3 linked regions of the Homo sapiens genome follow. The protein of the gene in region 1 purifies or fractionates together with the protein of each later gene. This does not show direct contact. Each region holds a gene or a part of one and is shown in the gene's direction. Other genes may lie near its edges.

Region 1 (3,656 bases):
AGGTGCCTGTTTTAATGTTAATACTGGTCAGCTGTGTTTGAATTCCAAAGAGGGGAGAGTATAATGAGGCATATCCAGCCCCCATCCCCCTGACCTTATCACGGCCTGAACTAGTTTTTCAGGTTTACTTCAGAATACCCTTGGCCAAGGGGAGGGTCCATCAGCTGGCTGGGTGGCTTAGAATTTTATTTTTGATTTACAAATAGTACCCATCACATTGGGTTATTGGACATATGAAAGGGATGTATGTGTAAGGCACATGACAGGGGCTCTCAAGTGTTAGCAGTTATAATTCTGACCTAGGTTTCCCTAATGTCCAAATGTATTTGTGTTGAAGGTGTTGGGAGTTGCATGCTGTGACAGATGATCTTGCTTTTCACTCAGTCTTGAGAGGAGGGCATAGGGGCCTGGTCCATAGCACACTAAATAAAAAATGAAGCAACTATGGGCAGTCAAGATTTAAAGGAGTTTTCAGTTTCAACTCACAGGGAGCTAGGTGAAGGGAAATTAGGGAGAAGTATGAACCCACCTTCAGTCAAAGATATGATAAGCTAAACAAAAGTCACAGCAGAGTTTTTTAAAAATTAAAAAGAAACCCCGCATCAAAACACTTGAAATATTGTGACCTAGTTGAAAGAAAGGAATGTGGGCATGAAATGAAGGTTTGGGGGAAGCGATCTTCCTCTGTAGTGAACAGGGGTTGGTCCACAAATGCCTATGGGCCAAATCTGGCCTACTGCTGGTTTGTGTATGATTAACAAGCTACAATTGGTTTTTACATTTTTAAATGAATGAAAAAAATCAAAAGAAGAATATTCATAATACGTGAAAATTATGTGCAATTTACATTTCAGCGTGCATAAATAAAATTTTATTATAACACAGCCATGCTCATTTTTTTATGGATTATCTCTAGCTGGTTTCATGCTTCAAGGGCAGAGTTGAGTATTTGGGACAGAGATTGTACACCCTCTATGCCTTAAATATTTACTCTCTGATCCTTTCGGGAAGTTATTGACCCCTAGTATTAATGAGTTAAAGCATGGCTGTATTTCTCACTGCTTCGTGTTCCCTGAACGCCATTTAATATTTTCTCTCTTTGTAATAATGTATAACATGCATGGAAGCATAATTAGTGCTTTATTTCACTTAACCCTTTACAATGATTATTTTAAAATTAGGATGCTCTTTTTGAAGATTAAAAATTACAGTTTTAGCTATTGCACGCAGGGCTTAATTCCTAGGTAATGGGTTGATAGGTGCAGCAAACCACCATGGCTATATTTACCTATGTAACAAAACTGCACGTCCTGCACATGTATCCTGGAACTTAAAATTTTTAACAATCACAGTTTTGCAGTTTACAAAATTCCACCAGGAAACTCTAAATTACTTTTCAATACCCTGGGGGAAAAAAATCCTGTATCTTTCTAAACCACAGACATGTTCTTGTGGGATGAAGGCTGAGGAAACTAGCCTCCAATGTGTAATTTGATATTCCCCATTCTCTGCTATCTTATGTGTTCAATAAATATCTGTTGAATTGATTTTCATCATGTTGACAGATAAACTTGGTTGGCAAGAATAGGAAAGTTGTTTATTTATTTGTTCTGTGTGAAAATATAGAACTTTCAAAACACCAAGAGCATTTTTAAGTATCTAATGATGTGACACTTTGTTAGAATCTGTACAAAGAAATAGGCAAAAATCACAAATTTATAGTTAATGGGTACTAATGCAGTACATGAGGTCACCCTGCTGTTTTTAATTCTGTCAGTGTGTTTTCTGTAGCGTTTTTAACTTTTACAGTATATGCCACGTTTAATGAGAGAAGGAAAGGGTTACATTTGTCTACTGTTATTACTTCTCAGTAGTTAGCAAAGAGATACTCTCTTAGCAGTCCCAAAAGATACTATTTTAGTTGCCATTACATTAACATGAAACATTAATATTTGCATGCAAAGTTTTTTTTCCTTTTGGGAATGAAGGGGTTAACTTTAAAAAATGTTAAGAAGGGACAACTGAGGTCCCAAAGAAAATATTTTCTTACAACTCTAAGGCAGAGCCATTTGGCTATTTGGAAGAATTGTTTTATTAGATGGGTTTTTATAGCAATCATATCCATGCAATCAGTGATGCCTCTGAGCTTGGTCCTATTGGCATCCTGATGAGATTATAATGTAATTTAATACTGACCATTTTAAACATATGATCAACCTTTTCAGACTATTTTTTTCCTGATTTTTCACATGACATTTCCCAATGACATTTACATTTAAAAATGCTCAGTTTATTAAAGATTGAAATCAGAACCAGATGAGAACAGTACCAATTGATTAGGCTACCATAACTTGGCAACCCTCTGTGTTTAGTGTGATCAGTGCTAAAAAGGTGAATTATTCACAGTGTTACATAGATGTATAAACCAGCATACTTTGTAATTTAAATACCCTAAAAAAATTCTACTTTTCTCATAATTGTATTAATGCATGAAAAGGATGACTCACTCATTCCGGTGATTCAGCAATGGATTTGAACTATCAAGCCATTATAAATATCCTTAAACTGCAATATACTATTTTTAAAAAGTAAAATATGAAAATTTACTTTTCTGGAATAAATATGTAGCATGGAGCCTGGCACATAATAAGTGCAAAGAAAATAGTTTCATGATGATACTTGGTTTTTGGGTTTTTTTGTTTGTTTGTTTGCTTGTTTGAGACGGAGTCTCACTCTGTCACCAGGCTGGAGTGCAGTGGTGCAATCTTGGCTCACTGCAACCTCTACCTCCTGGGTTCAAGCGACTCTTCTGCCTCAGCCTCCCAAGTAGCTGGGACTACAGGCGTGTGTCACCATGCCCAGCTAATTTTTGTATTTTTAGTAGAGACGGGGTTTCACCATGTTGGCCAGGATGGTCTCGAACTCCTGACCTCGTGATCCACCCACCTCAGCCTCCCAAAGTGCTGGGATTACAGGCCTGAGCCACCACACCCAGCCGATGATACTTGTTAAGAATATGGGCTATTGGGTTCAAACTGACTGAGTGTGAATCCTATTTATGTTCTTTACAGATTTTTGATCTATGGCAAATTTCTCAACCATTCCAGCCCTAGGTCACTTCATCTCTAGATTGGGAATAATAATAGGACCTACTCAATGGGATCAGTAAAAGCATTAAACATGATCGTGCAATGTAAAGTGCTTAACAGTGTCTGAGCTGCAAATTCTAATTCTTAAATGTTCTATCAGTATTACTATATTATTGTTATTATTGTTATCTTCTATCTTCTTAATATGATTTTAATATGAAGTTACATATAAATGCCAGTATAAAAAATAAATTGAATTGTGATATTACAAATTCTAATCCTGAGAGCCTCAGATTACGAGGTTGAACAGTTCCCATTCCCTTTTTAGGTTCAAGCGTTGGCCTTTTCATATATGCTGCTCTGCAGAGGATGCTGGTTGAGTTCTATGGACTGGATGGATGCTTGCTGATTGTGGGTGCTTTAGCTTTAAATATATTAGCCTGTGGCAGTCTGATGAGACCCCTCCAATCTTCTGATTGTCCTTTGCCTAAAAAAATAGCTCCAGAAGATCTACCAGATAAATACTCCATTTACAATGAAAAAGGAAAGAATCTGGAAGAAAACATA
Region 2 (3,656 bases), on another chromosome or scaffold:
TACAGATTGCGTGTATAATCCTGGCCAGCATCTCTAAAGCTTGTCAGCTGCTTCACGAGTGAGTACCCCTGTTCACAGAGGAGATCAGGTGAGTGTGCAGGTCTGAACTTACTACTGCAATGGGAAGGTCAGCTCAGAGAGCATTAACTTTGGATACAGATGATAACACAACAAAACTATTACCTCATATCTACGTCGCTATGAGCAGACTGGGAATAGGGTAATAGTGCTTGGAGTTGGCAGAGGTGCAACAGTAGATGGCCATGGGTGCTGCTTTGGAAGGGCCTAAGGATACAGTTGTTGAATGATTGTAAGAACAAGAGAAAGGTGGAGTCTCAATAAGGCAGCCGTACAATATGTTTATCAAGCCTTCAATAGGTTTAGTATATACTCCTTTGGTGCATGCTTACAAGTTTACTGAACTATAACCAAACATCCCACTGGGAAATGTTTTGAATTGATGTGAGAATTTGACATTAAGTAGCAACTTGGGACATCAGAGAGGCCTCAAAAAGAAAAAAAAGTTAACAAGAAATTAGTGATTAGGTTGAAAGAGACATTCTACTCCTACTACCTAGAGAGCATAGATAGAGAAAAATAAGCACCTTCTATACCCATACCAGGACTTAGGCAGCTGCTGCTTGCAATAGCTGCAGGCCTGGTCCTCATGCACCTTACAGAGAACGAGTCAGTACAAGCTCAGACCCAGTTGATAAAAATGAACCAAAATGAATTAAAAAGTCCCTGTGGTTGGAGCTATATGGGTAATAGCTTTACCAAATATTTGTGTAGCCAATTGTAGTTTATGGTGCAAAACACTAAAATCCCTCCACAGAATCTCTGGGGTAAACATTATTTTCATTTTTTTCAGATGAAAATAGTAACTTTTCAGATGAAAGCTTATAGCTAACACTTGATTTTTGAGATTTATATATATTATATATCAGTTAAAATAGCTTTAAGATTCTAAAAATGTAAGCTTATTTTTTCCTCTTTAAGAGGAAGTGATATTTTTATTACATGCATGGGATTGAAGGGGTGTGTTATTAAAAGTAGAGCATTGGACTAGAGATTGGGGAATTACTGCTTCTGGTCTTGATGCTGCCAGTAACTGAATATTACTCAGGGTCTCTTTTTTTTCTCAAGTATAAATTGAGTCAGTCTTACGGGGATTTTTCTAGGATGTGTCTCAGTTTCTCAGTTTCTCAGATGGGTTTCAGCAACATTCCCAGTGGCTGTCAGTTGTTAGAAGGATGCAGCTGGCTCTGGCATTTTCAAATAGAAAGTCTTCTTGTCTTCCAAGAAGGGAGTCGTAGTTTTTTCCTTCAAAGAGCACACACAGCATTTGATCTGTAGCCTTTCCCTTTTCCATCTTATTTCCATTCTGGTTTGGGCCCTGAGATACAAGTAACAGTTGAGGTATAGACTATTTAGTTCACTGATGTATCACAGGGCCTTGATTAGTGCCTGGCCTGGGAGACATTTGTTGAATGAATGACTTAATATATAGGAGCTTGCAATCTAGTGGAAAGGCAGAAAGGTGAATGTGGAAAGGCTAATTCCTGTTCTTTCATTGAGACTGTATTGGAAGTTTGAGAAAGGAACAGCAGGCACAAGGAATGGTAGCTTTAGGTAGGCAGGGTTGGAATGGAGTGGACAACTGTTTTGGTCAGTGAAGGCTTGGATGTTTAGACTGCGTCTTGAAAGGTGACTCCCTCCCAATGGTACAGGAGAGAGGGCAATGTAGGCGTGTGTAAAGGCAAGGAGATGGACGTAGAACAGGATATGTAATATTAAGGAAAAAAACTGTAGAATTTGAGGTTGGAGAGTTAGGCCATCACCAAATGATGAAGTCTTGAATGCTGTACAAAGAATTTGAATTTTTCTGTAAACAGACAGTAGCTATTGAAGAATTTGAAGTAGGGAGTTACCATTATCACATTTGCATTTTAAGCGGATGGTACAGGAATTAGGGCAGGAGAAATGGGATGAGAGAAGAGAGGAATTCATTAAATATTTAGGGATTGATGAAGTCAGAGCTAAGAATGAGAGAGAAAGAAGAGTTAAGAACAAGCCCTATGTTTGAATTTAGGAAGCTGGGTGTTGGTGGTGTCATTAATGAGGTAAGGAAGGCAGGAGAAAGAGGAGATATGCGGCAAACGTGAGATCAATTTTGGACACTTTGGGTGTGAGGTGCTTCTGGTTTGCCAGAAGGAAGGTGTTCATTAGGCACTTCAGTGTGGAGACCGGGCTTCTGAGAGATAGGTCTTAAGCTCGAGTGAATGCATTTATTAATGGAATTTATTAGTTTATCAACAACAGTTAGAAATCAAGAGATTGGATGAGAGTGCCAGTACAAGGGCACATAGAATGAGAAGGGCCCTTCAGCATTGAAGTGCAGGCAGGAGAGGGGAAGCTGCAAAAGAGATAAAATGTGGCCAGAGTCCTAGGAGAACCAGGACAGCAGGATGTCAGAAAAGCCAAGGGAGGGCTTTCCAGAAGACGGGAGTGGCCAGAGGTGTTAGATGCTAAAGGGAAGCCATATAAATAAGGCATTTTATAAATATAAAATATTTATTTACATAAATATCAAAAGTTATTTATTTGGTCATTGGTGACTTCTACCAGAGAATGTTCACTGTTGCACTGAGGGTAAAAGCCAGAGAGTGGTGAGTTCAGGAAGTGGAAATGGGAAGGAGACCCTTGATACAGGAGGAGGATCACTCAGTTACTTGAAATGGAAATCCTGGGGTCTTCCTTGATGACTTCTGCTTTACTCCCACATCTACTCAGATACTGGGTAGTGATGCTGAGGGATGTTTGAGTGGGATCTTTTTTTTTTTTTTTTGAGACGGAGTCTCACTCTGTTGCCCAGGCTGTGGCGCGATCTCACTGCAAGCTCTGCCTCCCGGGTTCACGCCATTCTCCTGCCTCAGCCTCCTGAGTAGCTGGGACTACAGGCGCCCGCCACCACGCCCAGCTAATTTTTTGTATTTTTAGTAGAGATGGGGTTTCACCATGTTAGCCAGGATGGTCTCGATCTCCTGACCTCGTGATCCGCCCACCTCGGCCTCCTAAAGTGCAGGGATTACAGATGCGAGCCACCATGCCTGGCCTTGAGTGGGATCTTGAGACTCAGACTTTTTGGGTTTGAATCCTTCCTCTGCTACTGATAAAGTATCTGATCCAGGGCCAGTTATTTAATCCGGCTATGCTTCAGTTTTTTCACCTATAAAATAGAGATACAAAAGTATCTATCTCATAGGCCTGTGAAGGAGTAAATAAGTGAAGTGCCTAGCTTAGTGTAGCGCCTGGCACATAATAAGCACTCAGTGAATGTTAGTATTTTAAATCCTAAATACCTTTTAAGTGTGTTCTCCCCTGGATTACCATAATAGCTTTTTTTTTTTAAAGTTTATTAAAGTAAATTGTTGTAGAGTAATTTACATGCCATGAAATTCATCCATTTTAAGTTTACATTCCAACACTTTTTTTTTTTTTTTCTAGATAGGGTCTTGCTCTGTTGCCCAAGCTGGAGCACAGTGGCATGATCATGGCTCATTGCAGCCTTGACCTCCTGGGCTCAAGTGATCCTCCCTCCTCAGCCTCCCGAGTAGCAATTCAACACTTGATGAATTTACTGAGTTGTGCAAACA
Region 3 (3,656 bases), on another chromosome or scaffold:
TATTAAAATTTTCAAAGAGTCAATTTTGGAGATCTTGGATGAGGAAGAGTTGCTAGAAGAGCTCTGTGTATCAAAATGGAGTGACCCACAAGTCTTGTAAGTATATAATTATACTTTGTTATTTATTTCCTTAGAGTAAATCTTTTGCCTTTTCCACTTCAAGGTGATTTTTCATACAGAATGTAACATTTTTCTGGACTACAGAATATAGAGATTTTTCATCCCCAGTTTCCCTTTTTTCCTGTGCAGTATCGTATCTAATTCAATGTAATTCTATGAGTATGCATACTGCATACCCAACACTGCTGACATGTGGTGAATATAAACACACAGTTACCTTTATATTCAAGGGACTGACCACCAGATTGGCATATACATCTACCAAAATAACTTACCTAGGAAGCAGAGTGGGAGAGAAATTTACATGGGGGAGGGAAAAGATGGGGTAAATACACGAGTAACACATTAACATGGATTATGTAAGTTCAGTCTAATGAAAATGTTAATCTTATAAACCTTTTATCTTTTATGAATTTAGAAATTGTTTATGCTTCTTGTGCACACTCCAGCTAAATGTTTACTTTTAAATACCCAAATATTTTGTTATTGTCTTTCTAGAGCAGTATCAGAAATTAATACACCTTTGTAATGAGTTTAGTTTCCACAGTCTGTACAGATTTTCTTACAGCACTTTGAAAAATTGGTTATTTATATCCTGATAAGGAAATAATAAGATAAAGGGGGCTATATAACATTTGGTAGATAGCCGATAGGTATGGTAGCAGAAACTGTTTGCTTTGCTTAGGCCAATCTGTCAATCTGTCTCTAATATGCTTTATGATACAGGTACCTCTTCAGAGTACTTCATTCCCCCTTACCCTTCTTGGTAGGGTAGGGGAGCAAAGTTATTACTGATATCATTCAAAAACATTTTCTTTATATGAAATCACATTATGTACACACCTCAAAAGGAAATGGTCTTGACATTTTTAGTTGTGGATTTTGTTTTACCTGATAGTGGTATTGGCTTTGCACTAATTCATCTGCATTCACATATCTGGATTTTCCTGTAACTGGCAGCATGTATCTGCATAAAAATCTCTTGGATTGGGGCCATGTAATACAGTGACACCAACTGGTCTACATAAGGATGGAACCTCTGTCCTCAACTCATCTGTAAAGTGTTTTGGATCAGTTGACATAGGTACTCACAGATTGGCCACAACAATAGAAAAGACAAAGGCAGCCAGGCGCTGTGGCTCATGCCTGTAATCCCAGCACTTTGGGAAGCCGAGGCAGGCAGATCACAAGGTCAGGAGTTCGAGACCAGCCTGTCCAATATGGTGAAACCCCATCTCTACTAAAAATACAAAAATTAGCTGGGCGTGGTGGCGGGCACCTGTAGTCCCAGCTACTGGGGAGGCTGAAGCAGGAGAACAGCTTGAACCTGGGAGGCAGAGGTTGCAGTGAGCCGAGATCGCGCCACTACACTCCAGCCTGGGAGCAGAGTGAAACTCCATCTCAAAAAAAAAAAAAGACAAGACAAGACAAAGGCTAGCTTTTCCACTGGTAGCTGAATGCTATATACTAATTTAGGAAGTTTTTGTCACTAAGTATATGATACACATGTTGGGAGTATGTTAATTATTTTCTCTTTTAATTGAAGTGAAAAGAGCAGTGCTGGGATTGACCATGCAGAAGAGATGGAGTTGCTGTTGGAAAACTACTACCGATTGGCTGACGATCTCTCCAATGCAGCTCGTGAGCTTAGGGTGCTGATTGATGATTCACAAAGTATTATTTTCATTAATCTGGACAGGTAAGAAAGCATTATATAAAACTAAGTTTTTTTAATAAAATAATTATAAGAAAGTTTTTAAGGAAATATTTTGTGAGGAATTACGCCATCATTATCATCTATACTACATTATTATTATTTTTTTTGTTGTGTAGGTTTCATCCATGTGGTCTGTATAGATTTGATGAATGTGCTGTATATAGTTAGTGGGCCCTTCTAATCTGAATAGGTGTTCTCCTCTCCAGCCACCGAAACGTGATGATGAGGTTGAATCTACAGCTGACCATGGGAACCTTCTCTCTTTCGCTCTTTGGACTAATGGGAGTTGCTTTTGGAATGAATTTGGAATCTTCCCTTGAAGAGGTGAGAATGTATTATTATTTCTAAAACTTGGGGGTTTTGGCCGGGCATGGTGGCTCATGTCAGTAATCCTAGCACTTTAGGAGGCTGAGGCAGGTGGATCACCTGAGGTCAGGAGTTTGAGACCAACCTGGCCAACATGGCGAAACCCTGTCTCTACTAAAAATACAAAAATTAGACAGGCACGGTGGCAGGCACCTGTAATCCCAGCTACTTGGGAGGCTGAGGCAGGAGAATCACTTGAACCCGGGAGGCGGAGGTTGCAGTGAGCTGAGATCGCGCCGTTGCACTCCAGCCTGGGAGACAGAGTGAGACTCTGTCTCCAAAAAAAAAGATTGGGTTTTGAAGATCGATATTTTTAATGGATTTAAAAAATAAAGGCTGGGCACCTTGGCTCAACGCCTGTAATCCCAGCACTTTGGGAGGCTGAGGCAGGTAGATCACGAGGTCAGGAGATCGAGGCCATCCTGGCTAACCCGGTGAAACCCTGTCTCTACTAAAAATACAAAAAATTAGCCGGGCGTGGTGGCAGACGCCTGTAGTCCCAGCTACTCCGGAGGCTGAGGCAGGAGAATGGCATGAACCTGGGAGGCGGAGCTTGCAGTGAGCCAGGATCACACCACTGCACTCCAGCCTGGGCGACAGGACAGAGTGAGACTCTGTCTCAAAAAATAAATAAATAAAAAGTCTAACCTGTAAACTACCATGGTGAAATAAAATATATAATGTAACTCACAATTCAGGCAGTACTGTTGGACCATGTTATAACCTAGATAAATACAGCCTAGGTTACTTTGTTTCCCAAAACATATAATTACAGATGGGAAAGGTGTGATAAAACAGTGTCTCTGTGAAGCAGTGTTAATGAAGAGTTTTTATTTTTTAATTCTTACATGTCTGGCAACGTACCAGGCGGTTTGCATACTTTATTTGGCTCAATCATTGCAACTCTGAAAATAGATATATTATCCCTACTTTGTAGATGAGAAGACTGAGGCTCAGAACATTTAACTTGCCCACAGGCATAGAGCTGGAAAAATAACAGAATTAGGACATGACCCCAAAGACTTGCACTTTCTACTGCTCTGTTGCCTTTCTGTATTAAGATAATACTTAACTCCCAGAGTTTTTCATTTCACTGTGGTTTTGTACAGTCATCCCTCAGTATCCAAGAAGAATTGGTTACAGGATCCCCACAGATACCAAAGTCTGTGGGTATTCAAGTCTCTGATATAAAATGACCCAGTACAGTCAACCTTGCATATCTGCAGATACAGAACCCACTGACTGTGTTTTCACAGAATAGCTTATTGTAAGTTTTCTAGAACTGAACCTGGATGTGCATCTGGCACAGTGTGATGCTGGATTCTGTGTCCTCATTAGTCTAACGAGTCTACTCTGTTGCCCACATCACCTCCCATTAGGACCACTATGCCCTTTTAAAAAGTGGTCTTTATAAGATGTAAGTATTATGACACCCTTCTGCATACAACTATTC

Evidence for each region.
Region 2: the proteins of SLC16A9 (region 1) and CHCHD3 purify together in Homo sapiens (affinity purification with mass spectrometry; one large-scale study listed by BioGRID and IntAct). This does not show direct contact.
Region 3: the proteins of SLC16A9 (region 1) and MRS2 purify together in Homo sapiens (affinity purification with mass spectrometry; one large-scale study listed by BioGRID and IntAct). This does not show direct contact.

What each region holds. Positions count from the first base shown.
Region 1 is NC_000010.11:59,654,351-59,658,006, reverse strand, and holds part of SLC16A9 (monocarboxylate transporter 9), read left to right. Parts: intron 1-3,417; coding exon 3,418-3,656.
Region 2 is NC_000007.14:133,072,018-133,075,673, reverse strand, and holds part of CHCHD3 (MICOS complex subunit MIC19), read left to right. Parts: intron 1-3,656. UniProt on the Homo sapiens protein: Component of the MICOS complex, a large protein complex of the mitochondrial inner membrane that plays crucial roles in the maintenance of crista junctions, inner membrane architecture, and formation of contact sites to the outer membrane.
Region 3 is NC_000006.12:24,416,418-24,420,073, forward strand, and holds part of MRS2 (magnesium transporter MRS2 homolog, mitochondrial isoform b precursor), read left to right. Parts: coding exon 1-96; intron 97-1,666; coding exon 1,667-1,819; intron 1,820-2,043; coding exon 2,044-2,161; intron 2,162-3,656. UniProt on the Homo sapiens protein: Magnesium transporter that mediates the influx of magnesium into the mitochondrial matrix and regulates magnesium metabolism. Also permeable to calcium, sodium and potassium ions.